Homo sapiens: one gene and its partners. The protein of the gene in region 1 interacts with the protein of each later gene in a pairwise test. Each region holds a gene or a part of one and is shown on either strand. Other genes may lie near its edges.

Region 1 (7,039 bases):
AGTAGTAATAGTACACATTGTGTGTGAATATGGTAAAAATCACTAAGTAATACTCAGACTGAAATTTGGGAAGTGCTGCTTGTAGGCCATAAGAAACCATTAACATGTTTTAGAAGAGCACCACGATCAGATTTTTACTGTAAGGAAAATGACAGTGGGAAGGATACAGTGGAGGTGGATATGATGAGGCTGCTACTCTGTTCCACAGAGAGACAATAAAGACCCAAGAGTAGTGACGTGAGCGGAGCGAAGAGATTTGAGAAACATTTAGGAGGTAAAATTATTAGGACTTGGTGGATGTTAATATTATTTTGTCAGTGTTACCAGAATTGTTTTAAAAGTCTGCATGCCCCCCTTGCCTCTTGTCCTTTATATTGTATGGTGAGCAATAATATTGCCAAAACATGCTATGTTTCTATGTTCATTAAGATTACAATGGAAGCTATAGTTACCACTCGAGTGGATTTGGATTACACACAAACATCCTTCCCACCTTACTCAGTGTCCTTGAGAGCAGTAGCACAAATATTCAAGGCACTGATTAGGAATATGACCATGATCTGTGACCCTTAGGCATGCAAGAAATTCCTCAGCCTTTAAGACTCAGCTCATATGTCAACACCTCTGTGAAGCCTTCCCGACAGCCCTTGCCCAACATACATGAATGCACGCACAAGGCAATGTTAGGCCTCGGGCTTCCACAGGACCCTGCACTTAGTTACCTCCGTCCTAGCCTGTACCACACTGTAGGGTGTCGGTCTGTGGATGTCTCTGTGTTCCCCACTAGACTGTGAACTCCTTGAGGGCAGGGACCAGGTTTCATTCATCTCCATACCCATAGCATCCAGAAGAGCACTTGACACATGGTAGTCACCTAATAAATGGTTATTGGGTGAAAAGAATTGATAAACAGATTTGCATGAATATAACTGGGGACCTTGGTAGCACAGAGTGCCAAATGCTATGAAAAGACTAGCTGTTTGCTACATTTGCTACTTTTGCTGAAGAAAGGAGTAAATTAAAGTGCCCATAATTTCATGAAAGACCTACTTTTTCCCTCTTTTCTTCACTCTCCCCTGGTTATCTTACCTTTTTCTTTCCTATCATTTACCTATCCAGGCACCTATTCCTTAGCCCTGCCCATTACTTTGCTGCTCTTGACAGAGTTCATCTTCCTCCTGCCCTGATACTTTGCCAGGAAACATCCTTCCTTCTACCCACCCAAGTCCAGTACACTCCGTCCTTGACATCACTCTCAAGTTCATCTCCTACTCATAGACTCTGCTGCTGGGACTATAATTTGATACAGCTCTTCTGGAGAGCAATTCGTCAATATGTATCAGAAACCTTAATAGAATACAGCTTTTAACCTACCACTTCAACTTCTAGAGCTCTATGCTGAGGAAACAATCATGATGTTTCCAAAAATTTAATACTCAGGACATCTATCCCAGAGTTGTTTATACTAATAGCAAAAACAACAAAAAAAAAAAAAAGAAAAAAAAGAACATCTTAAATGTACAATACTAGGGATTTGAATGAAATCAATTGTGGTACATTTATAGAATGGATTACTAAGTAGCCTTGTAAGTTGATTTTACCAAACAATATTTAATGATGTGGAAAATTGTTTTTGATATATTAAGAGAAAATTCACATCATAGAACTCTCAGTACAGAGTGACAGATCCCAGTTTAAAAACATATACATAATACACACACACACACGCACACACACACGCACACGCACACACACATCTGTGTAGGCATACATAGGAAAAATCCTGTAATGGTAAACACACAAAAAAATATTAATAGGGGTTTGCTGCAAGTAGTAAGATTGCATATGACTTCTACTTTTAACCTTTTGCGTATTTTTATTTTCTAATCTACAGTATATTTGTTAATTTTTAAAAAGTTATTTTGACCAGGCACAGTGGCTTAACACCTGTAATCCCAGCACTTTGGGAGGCCAAGGCAGGCGGATCACCTGAGGTCAGGAGTTTGAGACCAGGCTGGCCACCATGGGGAAACCCCGTCTCTACTAAAAATACAAAAATTAGCCGGGCGTGATGGCATGCGCCTGTAATCCCAGCTACTCGGGAGGCTGAGGCAGGAGAATTGCTTCAACCCAGGAGGCGGAGGTTGCAGTGAGCCAAGATTGCACCACTACACTCCAGCCTGGGAGACAGAGTGAGACTCTGTCTCAAAAAAAAAAAAAGTTATTTTAAAATGTTTTCCCGGTGTCCACCATTGTCTTACTTTGGGGCATACCTTCCACCCCCCAACACACATGCATCACTTCTAGCCTGGATTACTGCTGCTTCCAGCCTGCTTCCCTTCTAGTCTACTCTTTACCAATGCTGACAGAATGATTTTTGTAAATCACAAATCTAAAACCATCTGGTCTCTATATAAAATAGTTCAAAGGCTGTCCATTGTCTTCAGAGTAATATCCAGACTTCTTAGACTGCCTGATAAAAGCTTTGAAAATCAGCTCCCTGCTTGCTCCTCTAGTATTAGGTTTTCCTTCTGTGATTTACTTTTTTGGGGGGTCTTTGGCCAGTGGCAGGCACATAATAGGTATTTAATTAATGTTAGCCAATGTTGATGTGGACTGTATGGATTAGCTATTTTATGCCAGGCAATCTACTGGTATTTAATTCTCAGAGCAAAAATATTAAACACATAAAATAGTTATTCCTATTTTACAGATGAGGAAAACTAAATACATCAAAGCGAGAAGAAAAGTTATCATAATAAAGGGCATTTTTTAAAGAGAAAATTTAAAACCTCCTGCCATAACTCTGTTTTCTTTATTTTCCAGCAATCCCTGCTGGTCCTTGTCAGGAAGAAAACAGGCTTTGTACACTCCCTTGGGCAAGTTATATGTGACCACAGCATAACAAGAACAGCCAACTGACATGATCTCACCCTGTCGTGGTTCACATTGTGCTCATGTACGGAAATCTTTCCTTTGTGTACATAACACTTCACACAGGAGAGATGGAATAGCTCCAGTTGCTCTGTTTTTCTTTATTTTTTGAAATTCTGTGTCATTTGGGATGGGTATGTCAACAGAGAGCTACAGAAAACCGTGATAGAATTGAATGTACAAGAAACAATGTGTCTCATGGGAGCCGATGTCATTGGTTAATTTATTTTTTTAAATGTCATGTAGATGTATTTTCCAGCAATCTGTCCCCAGGGAAGACCTTGGTTGAATTCAATAGTTAATCCTACTTACAGAACGCAGCCCATGTGTGCACTATATTCTTGCATTGTTAAGTGATTTTAGACATATGTAGTGGATTACCATACGACATACAGTCGAGTGTATATAGGATATCTGATTTTCTCTACAATAACGTATCAGTGGTCATTCAGGATCCTGAAGTGTAGTCTTCCCTTCATTTTCCTTACAGATAATACCCATTGTGCAAAAATGGATGATTTCTAAGGGATGGAAGTCCTAAGCATGAGTCATCTGAGTAAAATATTTCTTTATAAGGAATTGTTACTTTTAAATACTCCAGGAAAAAAAATCTATAGTTTTCCTGCTACATGATCAAATAATTTGAATGTAGAAATTACAGATAGGGTTTCACTTCATTCGATGAATTATTGTAGGCTTACTATGTGAAAGCACTCCGTTAGGCACTGCACTAGATACTCATAAATACCCCTTTTAATGCCTTCTGTATAAAAAGAGAAAGAACAAGGGAGAGAGAGAGCAAGCAAGCACACAAGAGTAAGAGAATTCAAGAGCAAATAAAAGAGAAAATTTTAACAAGCGGGCCCATCTTATAAATGAAAATTCACCCAGCTGAAAACTGGGATATGTACCCGTGGGGATGTGTGTTTTTTTGTTTTTTTTTTCTCAGTGGGATAGCTAGGCAAAAATGAGCTACCAGATAGCTGATAAGCAAATGATCTGCTTCTCTGTTTACAAACAGTATGAGAGAAGGAACAGTGACTTTCTGTGCTTCCCAGCCCTGCACAAGCCTGCTGGTGATGTGAGAGTTATGATTGTGTCAGCTTTTCCAGGGTTTCTGTCTCTGCTGTAGAGATTTGGCAGACACCTCAGACAAATTTTATGTCTCTTAAATCTTCCTCAAGCTAGGCTTGGCTCTTAGATTTATATGTGCAAAAAAGTAAAGTGTTTACCAGTCTGACATTTTTGAAGATCAAAACAGACTTAGTTTAAAAAAAGAAATCAGCATACACCTCAGTTTAGTCAGAAAGACCTAATTGCTTTTTGCTATTTGTTTAAAACAGCCCAAATGTGTACTTTTCAGAAATGGCTACTGATCATATGTCTAAAGATTTATGTTCTATCCCTCAGTGTTGCTTCCTTTTTTTCTTGCCTACAAAGTGTAAAGTTTTGCTGAAGTCTTAATTTTCCTTTTTTTGCCTTTACTGATACATAGTATAAAACACTGTAGGATGGAAACATGGTGAAATACATTGGCAATCTAGGAGGAGAAAAAAGATAATTTTTATTAGCTCTGCTTCCCTCCCCTTTCTGGTGCTCTGTTTTTCAGTGGTCTCTTACTCACAAAATGTTGTTCTTTAGCATAATAACGATAGGTGAGTAGAAGAATCAAAGAGCTTTCAGTGACCACACTTTAACAAAGCTGGTCCAAATGCCTCGGTAGGCAGAGCACAAATGAATATGGCAATCATTCAGGAGAATTGAGACACTATGGAAAATGTTACTTCAGAGAACAACATTGCTTTAGTGGTGAACTATGAAAGATAAGGATGGAGAAATCCCCAGTAAGGGCCCTTGTCATCTGCTCCAGCTGCTCTTCATTTTTAGCCAGCAACAACTGCTAATAAGAGTTTCCTGGGATAGAAACTGCCCCACAATAAGCCCCCATAAGGTGTCCTCCTATCAGCTTTTCTTCAGTCAGGTCCTCAAACATACTTCACTAGGATTACTCTGGTCACATACCATTCTAATTTTCACCTTTCAAGAGATGCTGAGTTTGACTTCAAGGAGTACTTGATGTTCAAACTCATTCATTCAATAGACATTTGAGCATATATACAGGACCAGACCCTATGCTAAACACCAGGACTATAATAATGAATTTGATGTGATGTAATCCCTGCCCTTAAGGAGCTCACAGTCTAATAGGGGAGATAGACACTCAAACCAGTGATCGTATTTTGATGTGAAAAGCACCCAAAAGAGAGAGAAGGTGTTCTGGGAATATGGAGGAGGGAATTACAGCTGGGGGTGGACAACTTAGAGATCAGAGTCTAACTGTGCTGAATCATAAAGGATGAGGGGCATTGCCTAGTCTCTATGTGGACAAAGAGGTGATGGGCAAGGATTCCAGGCAGAGGGACCATCAACACATGCAAGGCAGTCAAATGTGTAAAACTGCATAGTTCAGAAAAAGGTAAGATATTGTGTGTGAACCACTGAAAGCATGGGAAAGGGGGACAGGATAAGAGTCTGGAAAGGTATCCTGTGGCTGGTTGGGTGAAGTAAGTCAGCTTGCTAAGAAGTATGGCCATTGTCCTATATGTAGGGATGAGTGAACACAGGGTTTTAAATGGGAGGAGTAACATGATTGCACTGGAGGTTGGACTTCATGGGGGGAAAAGCTGAAGACAGATGAAGTCCACTTTCTTTTTTTTTATTATTTTTATTTTGAAATACTTTCAATTTAGAAAAAAGTTGAAAGAATGGTATAAAGAATATTAAAATAACCATTTGAGAATAAAATTTTAATATGATGCTTCATCATTTCTGAATATTTTATTTGAATCTTCTACCAAAAAAAAAAAAAAGGATATTCCATATATAGCTACAATACCATCATAGACATCAGGAAATTTTCTTTTTTTTTTTTCTTTTTTTTTTAAATTTTACTTTAAGTTCTAGGATACTGTGCAGAACGTGCAGGTTTGTTACATAGGTATACATGTGCCATGGTCAAGGATCTAGAACCAGAAATACCATTTGACCCAAGCAATCCCATTACTGGGTGTATATCCAAAGGATTATAAAGTCCACTTTCTAATTTGGCAGTCTTTGAGAGGTTTTACCCTAATCACTTGCTACTATTCAGCAATGCCATCTCTGCTAGGGTTTCTTTCCATATACAGAGATCACTTTGAACAATTGTTTCCTTCTGCACACAGGACATAACTTCCTGCACTCCTTCACATGTTACTCAGATGAATATTCATTCTTTCCAACTCAAATCAGTGATTCCAGCAGTAATTGAGGTTTGATTATCATGAAGGAAAGAAATCAGTTTTGAAGCACAGCAGCTTCATTTCAAAAGCATTCTATGAGGCGTATTTATTGCTTGCTGAGTCAGCAGGGCTGAGGCACGTGCTGGTCAGCTGCCCTTGGGATTTGGGGGAGGAAAAAGGAAAGGCTGAAGAGATGTCAGGAAGTGGCTATTTGAAAAATAAGCAGCAACCAGCATGTTGGAAATCCTTAAACGTCACATCCAGATATGGGAAGTGGATAGACGTACCAGATGTACATGAATATAAAACAAATGCATGTTGAAGGTACCTGTGCCCAAACAAATTGTACCATCTAGCCAGTCAGTTTTAGATCATGTTCTTTCCCTGACTCAGATACTGTAAATGGCTTCCCATTATCCATAGGATGAAGTCCAAACTCTTCAGCCTGACCTTTAGTACTGTCTGCAATCTGGCTCCAACCTACCTTTCTAATCTTTGTACTTCTGTCTTACAGAACTCTGCTCCAGCCAGTTACCCTTTCAGACACTGCTTTGGCATTCCATTACTTACAGTGGGAGCCCTCTCAGGGGCTGTATTTTTTACTTCTTTGAATTCCCCAAAGTGCCTAGCACAGTGTCTTGCATATAGTAGGCCCCCAATATATATCTGTGACTGTTATTTTTCCCCACCCTTCCACCATTGTTTCCAATATCTCTACTATTAACCCAATGCCCTCACTACTGAAAATGGCAACTGAGACACTAGGTAAAAGAGGTTGGTGCTCAACAAATTATCTTTTAACTTTCTAGTTTGAAGTACTTTTA
Region 2 (7,419 bases), on another chromosome or scaffold:
GAAATAAATAAATAAATAAATAAATAAATTAATTAATTAATTAATTAAAATATAAAAGTAAATAAAAAACTGAAAATAGTAACTGCTGGAGAAGATGTGAAATAACTAGAACCTACAAACACTGATGGTGAGAAAGCAAACTAGTGCAGCCTCTTTAGGAAGAAGTTTGGCAAGTTTCTTATATACTGAATATGAGCCATTAATCCTACCCCTCGATATTTACCCAAGTGGAATAAAAAAAAAATACAAAAAATTAGCGAGTGCGGTGGCACCTGCCTGTGGTCCCAGCTACTTAGGAGGGTGAGGTGGGAGGATCAGTTGAGCTCAGAAGGTAGAGACGAGTCTGAACGACATGGTGAGATCCCATCTCTACAAAAATTTAAAAAATTAGCCAGGTGTGGTGGTGTGCACATTTCATGTAAATAGAATCACACTATATGGGACTGTTCATCTCTAGCTTCTTTCACTCAACATAATGTTTTTGTTTTCTTCTTTTCTCTTTTTTGCAAAAGTTACCTTGATCAGCATAATGTTTTTATTTGGGTTGTCTTTCTAGTTTTGAGATGTAAGAGTTCTTAGTTTTTATCGTGGGTTTTGTTTTTTGGTTTTTTTCGAGATAGAGTCTCGCTCTTGTTGCCCAGGCTGGAGTGCAGTGGCACGATCTCAGCTCACTGCAACCTCCCCCTCCCAGGTTCAAGCGATTTTCCTGTCTCAGCCTCCCGAGTAGCTGGGATTACAGGCGCCCACCACCACACCTGGCTAATTTTTTGTATTTTTAGTAGAGACAGGGTTTCACTATGTTGGCCAGGCTGGTCTCTAACTCCTGACCTCAGGTGATCCACCCACCTCATTCTCCCAAAGTGCTGGGATTACAGGCGTGCGCCCGGCCCTGAGAGTTCTTTATATATTCTGAATAGTAGTTCCTTATGAGATATATGATTCACAAATACAGTTAGCCCTTCATATCCAGTTTCCTTATCCATGGATTCAATAAACCACGGAGTGAAAATACCTGGAACCAATAAAATAAAAATAATACAACAATAAAAAGAATACAAATAAAAATGTGTAACAATTATTTATGTAGCATTTATATTTCATTAGATATTATACATAATTTAGAGATAATTTAAAGTCTATGGAGGGCCGGGCATGGTGGCCCATGTAATCCCAGCATTTTGAGAGGCCAAGGTGGGCCGGATCACTTGAGGTCAGGAGTTTGTGACCAGCCTGGCCAACATGGCAAAACCCCGTCTCTACTAAAAATATAAAAATTAGCTGGACACAGTGGTGTGCACCTGTAATCCCAGCTACTAGGGAGGCTGAGGCAGGAGAATTGCTTGAACCTAGGAGGCAGAGGTTGCAGTGGGCTGAGATTACGCCACTGCACTCCAGCCTGGGTGACAGAGCCAGACTCCAACTCGAAAAAGTAAAATAAAAATAAATAAATAAATAAATAAAGTGTATGGAAGATGTGCACAGGCTATATGCAAATATTATGCCATTTTATATAAATGACTTGAGCACTGAGCATTTGTCCCATTCTGTGGGCATGACAGGTTTTTGTGTGAACCTAGTTTAAATTTTTTTTTTACACTATACTTTATTTTTTTAGAGCAGTCTTAGTTTCACAGCAAAATTGATCAGAAGGTACAGAGATTTCCCGTACACCTGCTGCTTTCATACTTGTATAGCTTCCCCTACAATCAACATCCTCCACATGCAAGTGCATGACAGTAGCTAGTCTGTTACAATTGATGAACTGACACTGATACATCATTATCACCCACAGTGGTTAGTGGATAGTTTACATTAGGGGTCACTCTCAGTTGAACATAGGTTTTTATTTCCCTTGGGTAAACACCCAGGAGTCTTTTTTTTTTTTTTTTTTTGAGACAGGATCTCACTCTGTCTCCCAGGCTGGAGTGCAGTACAGTGGAGTGATCATAGCTCACTTCATCCTCGACCTCCCTACCTCAAGCAAACCTCCCAAGTAGCTGGATACCACCAAACCTGGCTAATTTTTGTATTTTTGTAGAGATGGGGCTTCACCATGTTGCCTAGGCTGGTCTCCAACTCCTGGGCTAAAGTGGTCCTCTTGCCTTGGCCTCCCAAAGTGCTGGGATTACAGGCATGAGCCACCATACCAGGCCCTGAATCTTGTGGTAAGGTTAAGTTTAATTCTATTTAAAAAAAACCCAGCCAACCTATTTTCCAGAGTGTCTATACCATTTTGCATCAACACCAGCAATGTATGAGCATTCCAGTTGCTCCATACCCTCACCAACACTTGATATTGTTTATTTTTTGAAAGTTATTCTTGGATGGCTGGGCATGGTGGTTCATGCCTGTAATCCCAGCACTTTGGGAGGCTAAGGTGGGTAGATCACTTGAGGCCAGGTGTTCAAGACCAGCCTGGGCAACATAGACAGACCCTGTCTCCACAAAAAATACAAAAAAAAAAAAATTAGCCGGATGTGGCAGCATGTGCCTCTAGTGCCAGCTACCTGGGAGGCTGAGGAAGGAGGGTCGCTGCAGTGAGCCATGATTGTATCACTGCTCTCCAGCCTGGGTGACAGAGTGAGACCCTGTCTCAAAAAAAAAAAAAAGTCATCCTTGAGGCATCTTTCAAGCCTGATCAGGGTCACATTTTACAAGATGACTGCACAGATTTGGCAGAGGATGCTTGATGAGGCCGAGGCAGGAAAGCCTGCTGGGAAACATTGCAATAGTCCAGGCCAGGTAGAGAAAACACAGGTGAGACCCAAAGTGAGAAGGGCATGGAGGGCCAGGCTAAGAAATTTAGACTCTCAGATTCTCCACCCAAGAGGATTCTGGGCCTTAATAAAGTTGGTAGCTGCTACATTAGATCTGCCCTTTGGGCCGGGCGAGGTGGCTCACACATGTAATTCCAGCACTTTGGGAGGCCGAGGCGGGTGGATCACCTGAGGTCAGGAGTTCGAGACCAGCCTGGCCAACATAGTGAAACTCTGTCTCTACTAAAAATACAAAACTTAGCCAGGCGTGGTGGTGGGCGCCTGTAATAATCCCAGCTACTCGGGAGGCTGAGGCAGGAGAATGGCCTGAACTCGGGAGGTGGAGCTTGCAGTGAGCCGAGATCACGCCACTGCACCCTAGACTGGGTGACAGAGCGAGACTCCGTCTCAAAAAAAAAAAATACAAAAAAAATTAGCTTGGCATGGTGGACACCTGTGGTCCCAGCTACCTGGGATGCTGAGGCAGGAGAATCACTTGAACCTGGGAGGCAGAGATTGCAGTGAACCGAGATCACACCACTGCACTCCAGCCTGGGCAACAGAGTGAGACTGTCTCAAAAAAATAAAATGTAATAAAATAATAATGTCAATGCACACCCCAGAACTTCATCTAGCTTGTTCACCATTATGTTCCCAATGCAGTGATGCAATCATGGCTCACTGCAGCCTCAAACTCCTGGGCTCAAGCAATCCTCCCACCTCAGCCTCCTGAGTAGCTGGGACCACAGGCATGCACCACCACATCCAGCTAATTTTTGTATTTTTAGTAGAGATAGGGCCTTGCCATGCTGCCCAAGCTGATCTTGAACTCCTGGCCTCAAGTGAATCTCATGCTTTGTCCTCCTAAAGTGCTGGGATTACAGGTATGAGCCACCTCGCCCAGCCAAAACCTTTTTTTTTTTTTTGGAGATGGAGTCTTACTCTGTCACCCAGTCTGGAGTGCAATGGCGGGATCTCGGCTCACTGCAACCTCCACCTCCTGGGTTCAAGCAATTCTCCTGCCTCAGTCTCTGGAGTAGCTGGGATTACAGGCATGTGTCACAATGCCAAGCTAATTTTTGTATTTTTAGTAGAGATGGGGTTTTGCCGTGTTGGCCAGGCTGGTCTTGAACTCCTGACCTCAGGTGATCCGCCTGCCTGGCCCTCCCAAAGTGCTGGGATTACAGGTGTGAGCCACCTTGCCCAGTCAAAACCTTTTTTTTTTTTTTTTAAATCTCAGATCCTGAGAATGACCCTATGAGGTAGGTATAATGTAATTTTCATCTCATGAATGAGGTTCAGAGAAGTCAGGTGACTTGCCCAGGGCCACACAGCTAGTGGGCAGAGAGCTGGGATTTGAGCTGCAGTGTGCCCATAGCCCTTCTGTATACCCTGCCTGTCTCTTGAGTGTGCCCCATAACCCCAGCCTCACCTTGTGGTGGCAGATGTGGCCTCCCCACTGAGGTCTTCTCTGTGACATCCCACAGCCCTTATCCTTACCCATGGACACATTCAGGCTGTTGTCCAGAGAGCCTGGCTGTAATTTGAGTCTCATCAAGCAGGGGGTGATGGCGTAGGTGGGTGGGTGACAGCCAGGGCAGGGAGATTTGCCCAGACACTGGTACACAACAGCCTGGCAACCCGTGTGGCCCCGAGGAAGCTGGGAGCCTTTGGGGTGCATCCCCAAGTCTGGGCTGTGGTTCACACCATGGGCAACAAGCAGACAGTCTTCACACACGAGCAGCTGGAAGCGTATCAGGTAGAGGGGGGCAGGATGGGTCCTCAGTGGGTTTGACAACTTTGGTTCCGTGGTCTGGGAAATGGGAACAGAATGCCTTCATCTGGGTGTACCGTCCGCCTGGGTTCCTGGTTCTGCTCTGTGTGTGGCAGCATCAGGCCATCTGTGTGAGTGTGGGGTGGAGGGAGGAGGCCGTGGGAGGAGGCCCCAGAGGCAGGGTTCGGGTTAAGACAACACCTCTCTCCACAGGACTGCACATTTTTCACAAGGAAGGAGATCATGAGGTCAGTCCAGGGAGGAAGGGAGAGAAGATCTGGAAAAACAACTTTCTATTCATTGCTGGAGGATATTTGCAATTTGGTGTGTGTGTGTGTGTGTGTGTGTGTGTGTGTGTGTGTGTGTGTAAGTAGTCTTTCTTTCTTTCTTTCTCTTTTCTCTCTCTCTCTCCCTCCCTCCCTCCCTTCCTTCCTTCCTTCCTTCTTTTCTTTTTTTTTGAGACAGGGTCTGTCTCTATTGCCTGGGCTGGAGTGCAGTGGTGCAATCATGGCTCATTGCAGGCTCGATCTCCCAAGGTCAGGTGATCCTCCCACCTCAGCCTCTCGAGTAGCTAGGACCACTGGTGCGAGCCACCACATGTACCTCATTTTTGTATTTTTTTATAGAGATGGGGCTCTCACTATGTTGCCCAGGCTGGTCTTAAACCCTTGGGCTCAAGCGATCCCCCTGCCTCAGCCTCCCAAAGTGCTGGGATTACAGGTGTGAGCCACCATGCCCAACTGGTATTTCCAATTTGTTGGGACTCAAATGGGGAAGGGGGGCAGGTGTGGTCAGTGGACAGAGGCAGAGATGGAGAAGCTGACAAGTCACATCTTGTCATACTGTCCCAGTCTCTAGGCTGATGAGCTTGGGCTTTCTCCCAAGGGTGGCAGGGAGCTATGGAGCATGCATGAGCAGGGGAGAGACCATCAGCACGTTAGAAAGATTCTCCTGAGGCTGGGCGCGGTGGCTCATGCCTGTAATCCCAGCACTTTGGGAGGACAAGGTGGGTGGATCACCTGAGGTCAGGAGTTTAAGATCAGCCTGGCCAACATGGTGAAACCCCATCTCTGCTAATAATACAAAAATCAGCTGGGCGAGGTGGTGGGTGCCTGTAATCCCAGCTACTCAAGAGGCTGAGGCAGGAGAATTGCTTGAACCTGGGAGGTGGAGGTTGCAGTGAGCCGAGATCACGCCACTGTGCTCCAGCCTGGGTGACAGAGCTAGACTCTGCCTCAGAAAAACAAAATGAAAGATAAAGATTCTCCTGAGACTGGGACTTGAGGCTGGGAGCCCAGGTGCAAAGTCCAGAGCCCAGTCTGGGTTGTGGGCTTGGCATTAAGATGAGGGTGTGAGGAGGTGGCCCAAGGCTGCTGCAGGTCCCTGGCGTGACCCAGCACGATGGGCACAGATGAGTATCCCACATCATCACTCGGCCTGTGGGGCCATTGCCCAGGGGCCCCGACCCATGAACTTGGAGCTATGAAACCCAAGCTGGCCAGGGTTCAGCTGCAGTGTGATCGGGGCCAAGGCCCCAGTTGTGTAGTAACAGGACATCCATTATTGATGGCCACACCTTTTACTAGTGAGCCCCATTGTTTGGGTGAGGACAGCTTGCAGGGTCACCTCGGCCATCACGATCAAATTACTGATGGGGAAACTGAGGCTCAGACAGGGCGGGGCTGATCCCAGGCTGAAGGGTAAATGCACAGAGCCCCAAGGCCCCAAGGACAGACATTTTGTCTGTCCCAAGCTTCTTGCTTATCAGATAGAATAACCAAGGCACAGAGAGGGAGAGGAGAGGAACATGCTCAGAGCCACACAGAAACCTAAACCCAGGGTATTCCCTGATGGGACCCCGACAGGGAACTGAGTGGTCAGGATGAAAGTTCTAGGTCTCCCCACCCCACCTTCATTGAGTTCCTAGTCATCATATGACCTAGGGACTCATGTCTCTCTCAGAGACAGTCCCTAGCAGCTTGGGGACCTCAGACCCACCAAGGATGGTCTCTGCAAGGCTGCTGCTCAGCATGCCCTAATGAAGGTATGGTGTCACAGGTGAGGGCTTCTGAGTGGAGAACTGGCCTTATAATCTGGATAGTGTGTGTGGTATTCAGTTATTTGCAAAATATCTTTTGTCTGCCCTTTAGAAAAAATGTGACTATTAGCTGTTTGTCTCTGCTCTGCCCCATTGAGGAATCCCTCCTTTTTTTTCTTTCTTTCTTCTTTTCTTTCTTTCTTTTTTATTTTTTATTTATTTATTTTTTTTATTGAGACCGAGTCTCATTCTGTTGCCCAGGCTGGAGTGCACTGGCTTGATCTCGGTTCACTGCATGCTGCGCCTCCCGGGTTCACACCATTGTCCTGCCTCAGCCTCCGGAGTAGCTGGGACTACAGGCGCCCACCACCACGCCTGGCTAAATTTTTATATTTTTAGTGGAGACGGGGTTTCACCATGTTAGCCAGGATGGTCTTGATCTCCTGTCCTCGTGATCCACCTGCCTCGGCCTCTCAAAGTGCTGGAATTACAGGCGTGAGCCACCGCGCCCGGCCTCTTTCTTTCTTTTTTCTTTTCTTTTTTTTTTTTGAGACAGAGTCTCGTTCTTGTTGCCCAGGCTGGAGTGCAGTGACACGATCTCAGCTCACTGCAACCTCCAGCTCCCAGGTTCAAGTGATTCTCCTGCCTCGGCCTCCCGAGTAGTTGGGATTACAGGTGCCCGTCACCACGCCCAGCTAATTTTTTGTATTTTCAGTAGAGATGGGGTTTCACCATGTTGGCCAGGCTAGTCTCGAACTCCTGACCTCTGGTGATCCACCCGCCTCGGCCTCCCAAAGTACTGGGATTACAGGCATGAGCCGCTGCATCCGGCCTCTTCCTCCCATTATAAG
Region 3 (2,748 bases), about 19 Mb from region 1:
CTCCTTACCCGAGGACACATGGACCCTGCTGACTGTCACCATCTCTTGCTGTCCTTCCTGGGTAGCCCTGTGTACATGTGGCCAGATGTGTATCCCCACATGTCCTCTTTCATATCAGGAAAGAGCTATTGATCTGAGAGTTTCTCAGGTCAGGAGAGCTGTGTCTTCCAGGCCCTGGCAGGAGAAAGGTGAGGGCCCTGAGCACAGAGGGGACCATCCACTCCAAAAAAGTGAGAAACTCACAGAGTTTGGCCCACCTTTCTGACAGTGCTGGGGTGCCAGGATGGGTGCTTGCAGTCTGCAGCCTGATGGCCCCATGATTCCTCTTCTAGAAGCTCCAAAAACTGAGCAGTGAGGCCTTGGTCTCAAGCAATGTCTTCAGATCTCAGAACACAGGAAGCCTAGGCAGTGCCAGTAGTCAAGATGAGATGTTCACCCTTAATCTACAAATGGCCCCACCTGCCCCAGTACAGAAAGGGACCCCCAGCTTGCAACCTCACCTGCCCTACCTCAGTCCTGGAGCCTCCTGCTCTGATGTCCAGCTGCATCTTGAGCAGCCTTCTCACTTCCTTTTTCAGGTTTTTAGAGAACAGGCCAACCTGGAGGACAGGAGTCCCAGGAGAACCCAGAGGATCACTGGAGGAGAACAAGTGTAAGTAGGCCTTTGTTAGATTCTCCATGGTTCATATCTCATCTGAGTCTGTTCTCACGCTCCCTCTCTCCCCAGGCTGTGGGGCCCCATCACCCAGATATTTCCCACAGTTCGGCCTGCTGACCTAACCAGAGTCATCATGCCTCTTGAGCAAAGAAGTCAGCACTGCAAGCCTGAGGAAGGCCTTCAGGCCCAAGAAGAAGACCTGGGCCTGGTGGGTGCACAGGCTCTCCAAGCTGAGGAGCAGGAGGCTGCCTTCTTCTCCTCTACTCTGAATGTGGGCACTCTAGAGGAGTTGCCTGCTGCTGAGTCACCAAGTCCTCCCCAGAGTCCTCAGGAAGAGTCCTTCTCTCCCACTGCCATGGATGCCATCTTTGGGAGCCTATCTGATGAGGGCTCTGGCAGCCAAGAAAAGGAGGGGCCAAGTACCTCGCCTGACCTGATAGACCCTGAGTCCTTTTCCCAAGATATACTACATGACAAGATAATTGATTTGGTTCATTTATTGCTCCGCAAGTATCGAGTCAAGGGGCTGATCACAAAGGCAGAAATGCTGGGGAGTGTCATCAAAAATTATGAGGACTACTTTCCTGAGATATTTAGGGAAGCCTCTGTATGCATGCAACTGCTCTTTGGCATTGATGTGAAGGAAGTGGACCCCACTAGCCACTCCTATGTCCTTGTCACCTCCCTCAACCTCTCTTATGATGGCATACAGTGTAATGAGCAGAGCATGCCCAAGTCTGGCCTCCTGATAATAGTCCTGGGTGTAATCTTCATGGAGGGGAACTGCATCCCTGAAGAGGTTATGTGGGAAGTCCTGAGCATTATGGGGGTGTATGCTGGAAGGGAGCACTTCCTCTTTGGGGAGCCCAAGAGGCTCCTTACCCAAAATTGGGTGCAGGAAAAGTACCTGGTGTACCGGCAGGTGCCCGGCACTGATCCTGCATGCTATGAGTTCCTGTGGGGTCCAAGGGCCCACGCTGAGACCAGCAAGATGAAAGTTCTTGAGTACATAGCCAATGCCAATGGGAGGGATCCCACTTCTTACCCATCCCTGTATGAAGATGCTTTGAGAGAGGAGGGAGAGGGAGTCTGAGCATGAGATGCAACCAGGGCCAGCGGGCAGGGAAATGGGCCAATGCATGCTTCAGGGCCACACCCAGCAGTTTCCCTGTCCTGTGTGAAATCAGGCCCATTCTTCCCTCTGTGTTTGATGAGAGAAGTCAGTGTTCTCAGTAGTAGAAGGCACAGTGAATGGAAGGGAACACATTGTATACTGCCTTTAGGTTTCTCTTCCATCGGGTGACTTGGAGATTTCTTTTTGTTTCCCTTTGGTAATTTTCAAATATTGTTCCTGTAATAAAAGTTTTAGTTAGCTTCAACATCTAAGTGTATGGATGATACTGACCACACATGTTGTTTTGCTTATCCATTTCAAGTGCAAGTGTTTGCCATTTTGTAAAACATTTTGGGAAATCTTCCATCTTGCTGTGATTTGCAATAGGTATTTTCTTGGAGAATGTAAGAACTTAACAATAAAGCTGAACTGGTGTTGTGAAACAGAGAAATAAAAGGAGAAGGTCATTAATTCTTGTCTTCTTATCCATATTAATCTGTTGTTCTATGAAAGTACACACCCATACACACATGTACACCCCCCTCCCCCCACATACATATTCACCAAGGAAATGCAGTTTCCTACTGAGTTGCAGATTCTCTGAGATGTCCTGGACAATAAAAAATATTCCAAAGTAGAGAGTGGTAGCACCTGGGGTCACAGTAATACTAGAAATAGCTGTCAATCATTAAATATCCAGTACATGCCAGGCATCATCCCAGGTGTTTTAATACATTTTATACATTACAACAGTCCTAAAAAAATGGTCTATCAAACCCATTTTCTGGATGAACCTGAGTCTCATGGTGCTTGGTAACTTTCCCAAGATCATATCACTGGTAAACCACAAGGTTGGCCTGAATTCATCTAGAGCCCATTCTATTCTCACTCTTTGCAGCCTGAAGTACACCTCTGTCCCTTAATTCATTTGTTTTCTCAGTACTGCATAATGTCTCTCAAGTGGCCAAAAGAAGGA

Evidence for each region. Proteins that work in one complex are often made in the same cells at the same time.
Region 2: the proteins of ENOX2 (region 1) and CIB3 interact in binary tests that used the Homo sapiens proteins (3 or more experiments, as listed by UniProt).
Region 3: the proteins of ENOX2 (region 1) and MAGEA11 interact in binary tests that used the Homo sapiens proteins (3 or more experiments, as listed by UniProt).

The regions. Positions count from the first base shown.
Region 1 is NC_000023.11:130,893,194-130,900,232, reverse strand, and holds part of ENOX2 (ecto-NOX disulfide-thiol exchanger 2), read left to right. Parts: intron 1-7,039. UniProt on the Homo sapiens protein: May be involved in cell growth. Probably acts as a terminal oxidase of plasma electron transport from cytosolic NAD(P)H via hydroquinones to acceptors at the cell surface.
Region 2 is NC_000019.10:16,170,521-16,177,939, reverse strand, and holds the start of CIB3 (calcium and integrin-binding family member 3), read left to right. Parts: upstream 1-4,414; 5' UTR 4,415-4,464; coding exon 4,465-4,515; intron 4,516-4,743; coding exon 4,744-4,778; intron 4,779-7,419. UniProt on the Homo sapiens protein: Acts a an auxiliary subunit of the sensory mechanoelectrical transduction (MET) channel in hair cells. Plays a role in regulating hair cell MET channel localization and function.
Region 3 is NC_000023.11:149,715,026-149,717,773, forward strand, and holds the end of MAGEA11 (melanoma-associated antigen 11), read left to right. Parts: intron 1-578; coding exon 579-652; intron 653-727; coding exon 728-1,751; 3' UTR 1,752-2,243; downstream 2,244-2,748. UniProt on the Homo sapiens protein: Acts as androgen receptor coregulator that increases androgen receptor activity by modulating the receptors interdomain interaction. May play a role in embryonal development and tumor transformation or aspects of tumor progression.